Linked DNA regions of Homo sapiens: region 1 is linked to region 2. The links come from fine-mapping of genetic effects on gene expression. A gene starts in region 2. The other region holds a variant in brackets. All regions are shown on one strand. Distances are between the middles of the regions.

Region 1 (5,226 bases), 43 kb after region 2:
GCCACCCCAGTTCAGGAGGCACAAAACAGATGTGGCCTCGCTTGGGTATCCAAGGCAGAGCCACCTGCACCTGTCTCACGTGCCTCCTCCAAGACCCTCCCTCCGATGCTCTCACTGGGACAGCCTCACCTTTACTAGTGATGGCTCCAATCGCGTTCACAAACACATAGTGTGCACGGGCACTATGCTGGGCATGGGAGGGGCAAATATACAATGCCTGTCTCCGGGGAGCACTGACTAGTGGGAGACTGTCATAAACGAGGGGCAGAAGGCCCTGAAAGCGGCAGTGGGCCAGGAGGAAAGGGGAGGGGCTTTCCAGGCAGAGGTGGAAAACAGCCTGGGAAAGTGCCCAGACAGAGGGGATGGGAGCTCAGAGTGCAAGTCCCAGCTTGATGGAAGAGGAGTCAAGGGCCGAGGGCCCACTGGGGAGTCTGGACTTACAAGGGCAAGCCACAGAAGGAAGGCGGTCAGCAGCGGAACAGCAGGACCAGGCTTGCACTTTACATCACTCAGGCAGGGGAGATCAGAGGGAGGCAGGGCTCAATTGGAGGAAGAGCAAGAGTTGCAATACTCTACATGAAATCAGGTAAAATCAATGTTACCTGGAAACTGAGTGGATATGGAGAAGGAGTGAGGAGTGCAGGATGCCTCCCATGTTTGTTTCCTGCAGGAGGGATGGAACAGATGAGACAGGGAAGAAGGTCTGCGGCAGGGGTCAGGTAATGACGGTAACAAGGATCAGGAGTTACACCAAGAACAGGCAGAGCCACAGTGTTCCCTGAGCCAGGGCCCAAGGACGTTTTTCTCTGGCCAAGGCACCTATCTAAGTAACAGTTTGTTAAATTATATGGTACCCTTCTCCTGAACACAAGTTGTTCTCCCTGTCTGGCTTTGGGAGAACCTCAGGAAGTTGCATGCAGCCTGCTCTGGGAATTCTCAGAGTGTTCAGGAAGACCATGGGCTCCCTTCCTCTGCCCGCACCCATCTGCACGAGTCTGCCTCTGAAATTCAAATAGAAAGCCAGCCCCATCTCTGACAGCCGTCCTCCAGGAAAAAGAGGGGTCAGCCTAAGCAGGTTATCAGAGGAACCAGATCCTTCCTGCCACATGAGCATGCGGCTCACCACTGGGGCCAGAGGGCCCAGGACACAATCTCAGGCCTCAAACCCTCATGGAAATGCCCTTCAGAACTGACCCACGGCCCCAGCCCCAGCTGACCACAGAGAGACTTTGCACAGATAAAGCTCATCTCATGGCCAAGTGTGGTGGCTCATGCCTGTAATCCCAGCACTTTGCGAGGCAGAGGCGGGCAGATCACTTGAGGTCAGGAGTCCGAGTCCAGCCTGGCCAACATGGAGAAACCCTGTCTCTACTAAAAATACAAAAATTGGTGTGGTGGTACACGCCTGTAATCCCAGCTATTCAGGAGGCTGAGGCAGGAGAATTGCTTGAACCTGGGAGGCAGAGGTTGCAGTGAGCCAAGATTATGCCACTGCACTCCAGCCTGAGCGACAGAGCGAGACTCGGGCTTTAAAAAAAAAAAAAAAAGCTCATCTCACTGTAGGATAACAGATGCCCCAAAGGCCAGCCCCATCTCAGCTATCGTAGCAAGGTCATCCCCAAAAGGTCATTCCAATGAAGATGCAAAGCCTAATGACTGTCCTTGGCCTTGTGGCTCAGGATAAGTTTGATTAGCTTGAAAGATCCAACTGGACACAGGGCACCAAATCACTACCAATGAACTAAACACACATGCTTGCACACACGTCCGCCCTCCAGGCCTCTGCATGAGCTATTCCCTCTCCCTAGACCTCTCTCCTGTCTTCTTTACCAGGCTAAATCCTTTCTAATCCCTTGAGACTCATAATAGCTTAGTTTATCTTCTTCAACGAGAGGATAAAAAGGATCCATCCTGCCTACCTAGAGAAAAAGCAACGTGTTGCTTTTCTGCTGGGAAGGTCTCTTTCCAAAATCTTATTACAGAATGACCATTTAAGTAAAGGACAAAGGTTGGGGCCTTTTCTAAATGTTGAGGTTCTATTTAAACACACAACAAAAGGCCGGGCATGGTGGCTCATGCCTGTAATCCAAGCATTTTGGGAGGCCAAGGCGGGACGATTGCTTGAGGGCAGAAATTTGAGACCAGACTGGGCAACACAGCAAGACCCTGTCTCTACAAAAAATTTTTAAAAATTCGCCAGGTGCTATAGCACATGCCTGTAATCCCAGTTACTTAGGAAGCTGAGGCTGGAAGATGGATTGAACCCAGGTGTTTGAAGCTGCAAGTGAGCTATGATGGCATCACTGCACTCCAGCCTGGGCAACAGAGAAATCCTATCTCTTAAAACACACACAAAACAGAGTCAGTTTAGGATCCCATTTCCTCCAGGAAGCCCTCCCTGACCTTACTCTCCTACAAAGGGTTTGAGGCTCCATTCCTTTGAGTTCCCAAAGCACTGTGCACTTCTCCTATGAGAACACCTCAAGCTGGTAGGAACTGTCTGCCTAAGGGGCCATGTCTCACAGCCTAGGAATAGCACATTGTGGGTAGGGAGTACGCCTATATTCATCTTCATCTGAGCATTGGGCAGAGCCTAGCATATAATAGGGGCTCCATGGATGATACCAAACAAATCAACAAATGACCTGCGCCAAGTCAGTCTGCTGCTGAGATCAGCCTTGCCACTTCAGCTCATGCCACCTCCTGGTCCTCCCTAAGAGCTCACTGTATGCAAAGCCCGGTGAGGGAGAGCAACACAGGAGCACAGGGCCCAAGTTGTTCCTACTCTTCTATCCCAGAATGTCCCATCTACTGTGATCTAGTTGCCACCACCCCTCCCCAACCAGCAAAACTCCTACCCTAAAATAAACAAACAAAAAAATAGCTGGGCATGGTGGCCACATCTGTAATCCCAGCACTTTGGGAGGCTGAGGTGGGTGGATCACAAGGTCAGGAGTTCAAGACCAGCCTGGCCAAGATGGTGAAACCCCATCTCTACTAAAAATACAAAACTTGGTCGGGCGCGGTGGCTCACGC[C/T]TGTAATCCCAGCACTTTGGGAGGCCGAGGCGGGCGGATCACGAGGTCAGGAGATCGAGACCATCCTGGCTAACACGGTGAAACCCCGTCTCTACTAAAAATACAAAAAAAATTAGCCAGGCGTGGTGGCGGGCGCCTGTAGTCCCAGCTACTCGGGAGGCTGAGGCAGGAGAATGGCGTGAACCCGGGAGGCGGAGCTTGCAGTGAGCAGAGATCGCACCACTGCACTCCAGCCTGGATGACAGAGTGAGACTCCGTCTCGGAAAAAAAAAAAAAAAATACAAAACTTAGCTGGGCGCAGTGGCAGACGCTTGTAATCCCAGCTACTTAGGAGGCTGAGGCAGGGAAGTGTTTGAACCTGGGAGGCAAAGGTTGCAGTAAGCCAAGATCACGCCACTGCACTCCAGCCTGGGTGACAGAGCGAGACTCTGTCTCAAAACAAATAAATAAATAAAATAAAATAAAATAAATAATAAATAATAAAAAAAAATCAAAGGAATAGTCCACAAGACTTTGTGGCTGGAGCATAGCCCCTTGTGGGTACTTAAGGTTTAAACTCACTGGGTGGCCTATCTGGCTTCCTTTGTGGGTGGGGAAGGGGAGCTCCAAGAGGTGGGCTCAGGGCATAGGAATGAGGCAGCTGGGAGGGAGTTGGGGCCTGGGACTGGGTGACTCTCTGGCTTGGTGCTGGGGAAGGAGGAGGAGGGGCATCACGTAGCAACAGAGCAAGAAGGAACAGGAGTGTGGCAGCCCCAGGCCCTGCAGATCTGGTCACACCTCTCCCCATGGAGCAGAGGAGGCAGGGGACATGAGCTGGAATGTGCGATTTTCTCAAACGTGCACCACCGGAATGTGTCAGCAACACCAAGTGTGGGGCTGTGTAGCCCAGAGAGACTGACAGCATCGATTATCATGACTGAAGCACAGATGGGATGAGCCACAAAGCACGTACAGATTAGTGAGGCTGAGGGAGTTCACAGGCAGGGAAACTAGCCAGGGAGGAAGAAGACAACACGTTCTCAGACGAGAATGGGAAAAGGAGGGGAAGAAAAAAAAAAACAAAACAATGTTTTCCTGACATTTTTGTTAACTTCTTTAGTCTTCAAAAAAAAAGAATGCGGCCGGGCACAGTGGCTCACGCCTGTAATCCCAGCACTTTGGGAGGCCGAGGTGGGTGGATCACAAGGTCAGGAGATCAAGACCATCCTGGCTAACACGGTGAAACCCCGTCTCTACTAAAAAATACAAAAAATTAGCCGGGTGTTGTGGCGGGCACCTGTAGTCCCAGCTACTTGGGAGGCTGAGGCAGGAGAATGGCGTGAACCCAGGAGGCGGAGCTTTCAGTGAGCCGAGATCGCACGACTGCACTCCAGCCTGGGCGACAGAGCGAGACTCCATCTCAAAAAAAAAAAAAAAAAAAAGAATGCTAGAAATATTATAGTAAATTTGTGGACAAACATAAAAGGTGGACTACATAGTACGGGTTTCATAATATATGTAGAAATAACAAAAAACAGGAGGGGGAAATGGAAATATACTGTTCTTACATTATACGTGAAATGGTATGGTATGATTTGAAGGCAGATTGTGATTAATTTAAACCTGCAAACCACAGAGTGACCACTAAAATCAAACCAATGAAGTATAGCTAAATAAGCAAAGAGTGGAAATAAAACAGAACCCTAAAAAATACTCAATGAATCTAAAACAAGGCAAGAGGCCAGACACAATGGCTCACACCTATAATCCCAGCGCATTGGGAGGCCAAAGCAGGAGGATTGCTTGAGGCCAGGAGTTAGAGACCAGCCTGGGCAACACAGTGAGATTCCGTCTCTACAAAAATAAAAATAAAAAATTAGGCTGGGCACAGTGGCTCATGCCTTTAATCCCAGCACTTTGGGAGGCTGAGGTGGGCAGATCACTTGAGGTCAGGAGTTCGAGTCCAGCCTGGCCAACATGGTGAAACCCCATCTCTACTAAAAATACAAAAATTAGCTGGGCATGGTAGCGCATGCCTGTTATCCCAGTTCCTCCAGAGGCTGAGGCATGAGAATCACTTGAACCTGGGAGGCAGAGGTTGCAGTGAGCCATGCACTCCAGCCTGGGGGACAGAGAAAGACTCTGTCTCAAAAAAAAAAAAAAAAAAAGAAAAAAGAAAAGAAAAAGAAAAAAGAAAAATTTAGCCAGGCC
Region 2 (5,226 bases):
TCAAGCACTTCAGGGTTGTAGATGCTGCCATTGTCGAACACCTGCTGGATGACCAGCCCAAAGGAGAAGGGGGAGATGTTGAGCATGTTCAGCAGCGTGGCTTCGCTGGCTCCCACTTTGTCTCCAGTCTTGATCAGCTGCACATCACTCTGAACCAGATAATAGTGGGGCAGTAAACACCTGTTGGACAACCAGCAGATCCATGGCCACTAAAAGCAGCTCCCCATTTGCCTGGTTAGCACAGGCAAACCAGGTCCACTCACCAGGATTTCAATGGTGCCCCTGGAGATTTTAGTGGTGATACCTAAAGCCTGGAAAAAGGAGGTCTTCTCGGGCCCGAGACCAGTGTTCTGGGCTGGCACAGTGACTTCACATGGGGCAATGGCACCAGCACGGGCAGCAGCTGGCACCTGACAAAGACAACAAACAGTGAGAAAAGCCTCTCCACTCACACAACCTGAGAATGGTCCATTTTGCTTTAAGGAGCAACAACAAAGTCTCTTTAGCCAACCCAATTGTCCCCTTACCTTATTGGCCAGCAACATGTCCCTGATCTCAGTGAGGTCCTCCTTGGTGAACACAAAGCCCACATTCCCCCGGATATGAGGCAGCAGTCTGCAAAGAGAAGTTTATGGGAGACAATCACCTTTCAGCACCATTCTCCAGGAAGAGGGAGACGGGCACTGGGGAGAAAGGACAAAACTGCCAGGGGAACTGACTTCTCCAGAGCTGGGTTGTTTTCCAGGTGCCCTCGGATGGCCTTGCGCATCATGGTGTTCTTGCCCATCAGCACCACAGCCTTCCCGCGAAGGGACATGCGGATCTGCTGCATCTGCTTGGAGCCCACATTGTCTGCTCCCACAATGAAACATTTCGGATAATCATCCAATAGTTGCTACAAAAAACAAGCCAGAGGAGCCAAGTTTAACAGGAAGAGAGAGGGAAAAAATGCCAGAAGAAACTGAACCCCACAATTTGTTTCCATCCCACTCCCTTTCTTCTAAGCTTTTGAAGTCAGAGGGAGATTGGGAGCTACGTTGTAACACTGCCAAACTGGATGATTGGCTAGCTGGGTATGAACGCTGAAAATTAGGTTTCTACATTCAATCAAGGAGTTTTTTCTTTTTTTACTTAGTTTTTAATTTTTCCCAATTACCAGGCATGCTTCTGATTCACTAAAATGGTTAACAGGATAAAAAAGGAATGTTCCAAGTAAGTTGGTCAAGAGGAGGGCTAGATTCACAGCATTAAAAGCACCACGTTAAGCAAATATAGCAACATTATTATTTGTAAAAACAATCTAGGCGTGTTTATCCGGATTGTTACACAATTCCTTTGGGTTTTGTGTCTGAAAACCTTCTAAGTGTGGGAAAATGTAATACAAGCTATGCTCTACAATGCTGCCTAATTGCTTAAGCGCAGTACAGTCAGCATTTCTGGGCAAGGGAGACCCACCTCAAAGGCCATCCAAAAGTCATTGGACACTTAAGTTTCTTGGCTGACAGGTCCTAAATATGCAACAGCTTGCTTCCTTACAATGAGTCATTCCTGACCTCAGACCTTCTCAAAAATGGAGTAAAACTGTAATGTGCGGCCGGGCGCGGTGGCTCACACCTGTAATCCTAGCACTTAGGGAGGCCGAGGAAGGTGGATCATGAAGTCAAGAGATCGAGACCATCCTGGCCAACATGGTGAATCCCTGTCTCTATTGAAAATACAAAAATTAGCTGGGTGTGGTGTCGCGCCCCTGTAATCCCAGCTACTCGGGAGGCTGAAGCAGGAGAATCGCTTGAACCTGGGAAGCGGAGGTTGCAGTAAGCCAAGATCAAGCCACTGCACTCCAGCCTGGACAACAGAGCGAGACTCCGTTTAAAAAAAAAAAAGTATAAAGCGCGCTCTTTTAGAAGCCAGACAGACCTGGATACGAATGCTGTCATCTTAGGACCCACTTAACTTGCCTGAGCCCGTTTATCTGCAACAGAAGGGACCTATCTCAGGAAATTGTTAACTAAACAGTATTTTCCCAAAAATGGCCTAATTCAGTAGCCGGTGTGAGTAGACCCTCAGCACATAGCAGCTGACTGTCCCTATTTGCGCTGGGGCAACATGAAGAGCAGAGGCGACCCACCCTGCACTTACGATGATCTTAAGGAAGTAGTTGGACTTCCAGGTCGCCCTGTCTTCCCTGGGCATCACGGCGGTGCGTCAGGGATTGCCACGCAGGGTTTAAAGACGATGTCACTGAGGAGAGACAGGGAGCTCAGGCCTGGTCACGCCGACACCCATCCCGCGGTCCCGGGCCTAAGAGGAGCAGGACACGCGCAATCGCCCGCCGGCCCTGCCTAGGGCAGCGGCCGTCATCTCGGGGCGTGCAAGCCGCCACCGAGGCCCCAGGCGGAACAGAATAGGACTCCATGTTCCCAAAGGCCCCCAAAGACCCCTCCATGCTTCCCGCCGGCGACCCCTGGCGCCCATCTAACTAGCACACGAACCTTCCACGAGGACGCCTGGCGAGAGAAGGGCCTCGCGCCCGCGCGTGCCTTTTATAATGCGAACAAAGTAGCCAATCAGAAACCGCGGATAGCGCTCCTGTCTATTGGCTGCGCCATCGCCCGTCAGACAAAGCTGAACGAATACAGGCAACCATTGGATAATATCGCTGCCACTCCAGCCAACGGAAAGCCGCCTTTAAGTAGGGTCGCGAAGGAAGGCGCTGCCTCGCGTTGGAGGAGCTTGCTCTGAGCTGCTGCCACCTGCTGGGCTGGAGCTGGAGCTGGAGCTGCGAATTCGGAGTCCCGGTTCCCTGTGCCACCTGGCGAGCTCAGCAAACTAAAAGGTATGACGTGGAGCTGAGACATAATTGCACATGCTTAGAAACAGAATGGTTTCTCTTTTTTTTTTTTTTTTTGAGACGGAGTGTCGCTCTGTCGCCCAGGCTGGAGCGCAGTGGCGCCATCTCGGCTGACTGCAAGCTCCGCCTCCCGGGTTCACGCCATTCTCCTGCCTCAGCCTCCGGAGTAGCTGGGACTACAGGCGCCCGCCACCGTGCTCGGCTAATTTTTTTTTTGTATTTTTAGTAGAGACGGGGTTTCATCATGTTCTCCAGGATGGTCTCGATCTCCTGACCTCGTGATCTGCCCGCCTCGGCCTCCCAAAGTGCTGGGATTACAGGCGTGACCCGCCGCGCCCGGCCTCAGAATGGTCTCTCGTCTTCTCTAGTTTTTCCGCCTACCAAAACAGAGGGATCCTTTAAAACCTGGCCGGGCGCGGTGGCTCACGCCTATACTCCCAGCACTTCGGGAGGACGAGGCGGGTGGATCACCTGAGGTCAGGAGTTCGAGACTAGCCTGGCCAACATGGCAAAACCCCGTCTCTACTAAAAATACAAAAATTAGCCAGGTGGGGTGGCGCATGCCCGTAATCCCAGCTACTCAGGAGGCCGAGGCAGAAGAATCGCTTGAACCCGGGAGCTGTGAGCTCTGCAGTGAGCTAAGATCACACCATTGCACTCTAGCCTGGGTGACAGAGAGGGACTCCATCTCAAAAAAAAAAAAAAAAAAAAAAAAACCTAAGTCAGCTCATCTCCTTATCTGCTTAAAACTTTCCGTTTCCTACAGAGTAAAAATCTAAAACCTAAAGTACCTACAAGGCCCTTACCTATCTGTCCCTCACGCCCACTCTGATCATCTCAGATGTTTTCCTCCTCACTTACTTGCTTTCTACCCAGATGATGCTCTGCTGCTTTTCCAGAGCAGGCTTTACTTGGGGGCTTTTGCATTAGCCATTCCCTCTTCCTAGAAAACTAGCCAACAAACATCCATAGAATAATTCACCTCCATCAAATCTTTTTTTTTTTTTTTTTTTTTTTTTTTTTTTTTTGAGAAGCAGTCTCACTCCGTTGCCCAGGCTAGAGTGTAGTGGAGCAATCTCAGTTCATTGCAGACTTGACCTCCCAGGCTGAAGTGATCCTCCCACCTCAGCCTCCCAAGTAGCTAGGACTACAGGCACACACCACCACGCCAAGCTAATTTTTTGTACTTTTTGTATAGATGGGGTCTTGCCATGTTGCCTAGGCTGATGTCAAACTTCTGGGCTCAAGCAATCCTCCCACCCTGGCCTCCTAAATTGCTGGGATTACAAGAATGAGACACCTTGCCCAACCCTGAGATCTCTTTTTTTTTTTTTTTTTCACTGAAACCTATGGAATTATGTATTAAATGATCCCCAAAGAATCAGCTATTTCAAAATTAAAAATTATTACAAAGAGCTTCATACATCATGTTATATCCTATATCACACACCATAAAACTGTCAGAAGTAGGCCGGGTGCGGGGGCTCATGCCTGTAATCCCAGCACTTTGGGAGGCTGAGGTGGGCAGATCACGAGGTCAGGAGATCCAGACCATCCTGGCTAACACAGTGAAACCCCGTCTCTACTAAAAAATACCAAAAGTTAGCCAGGAGTGGTGGCGGGCTCCTGTAATTCCAGCTACTTGGGAGGCTGAGGCAGGAGAATTGCTTGAGCCCAGGAGGCAGAGGTTGCAGTGAGCTGAGATTGCGCCACTGTACTCCAGCCTAGGTGACAGAGCAAGATTCCGTCTCAAAAAAAAAAAAAAAAGTTAGAAGTAGCTCGATTTCACGTTACTGTATTTCTTTTTCTTTTCTTTTTTCTTTTCTTTTCTTTTTTTTTTTTTTTTTTTGAGACAGAATTTCACTCTTGTTGCCCAGGGTAGAGTGCAATGGCGTAATCTCGGCTCACCACAACCTCCACCTCCCGGGTTCAAGTGATTCTCCTGCCACAGCCTCCTGAGTAGCTGGGATTATAGGCATGTGCCACCATGCCCGGCTAATTTTGTATTTTTAGTAGATACGGGGTTTTTCCATTTTGGTCATGCTGGTCTCGAACTCCTGACCTCAGGTGATCCACCCAGCTCAGCCTCCCAAAGTGCTGGGATTACAGGCGTGAGCCACTGTGCCTGGCCTGGGGTCTCTTTTATTTGTCTTCTTGGCTATCTGTGTTCCATGGGAAGGATGGAAAATAACATGAATGAGATTTAAATGCTGTTTTGACAGGTTATTAAGATTCCAATCACTCCAGGTGCGGTGGCTCACGCCTGTAATCCCAGCACTTTGGGAGGCTGAGGTGGGCGGATCACGAGGTCAGGAGATCGAAACCATCCTGTCTAACACAGTGAAACCCCATCTCTACTAAAAATATAAAAAACT

Evidence for each region. PIP is the estimated chance that this variant, and not a neighbour inherited with it, causes the effect. A credible set is the group of variants that fine-mapping cannot tell apart.
Region 1: its variant is the best candidate, but not a certain one, in a credible set for the expression of PXN-AS1 in whole blood (TOPMed, PIP 0.59).

The regions. Positions count from the first base shown.
Region 1 is chr12:120,241,351-120,246,576 of GRCh38, forward strand. The region is part of intron 1 of PXN (paxillin); the gene reads right to left. Among named protein-coding and RNA genes, the nearest start is that of PXN, 22 kb to the right of the region's middle. RefSeq lists an enhancer at 3,496-4,322. The variant C/T (reference allele first, on the strand shown) is at 3,037.
Region 2 is chr12:120,198,591-120,203,816 of GRCh38, forward strand. PXN-AS1 (PXN antisense RNA 1) reads left to right here and starts at 2,701. Exons shown (of 4, transcript NR_038924.1): 1 at 2,701-2,836. RPLP0 (ribosomal protein lateral stalk subunit P0) reads right to left here and starts at 2,521. Exons shown (of 8, transcript NM_001002.4): 1 at 2,493-2,521; 2 at 2,140-2,241; 3 at 720-895; 4 at 528-615; 5 at 264-410; 6 at 1-149. The coding sequence starts at 2,193. RefSeq lists enhancers at 1-105, 225-1,166, 2,207-2,276, 2,677-3,036.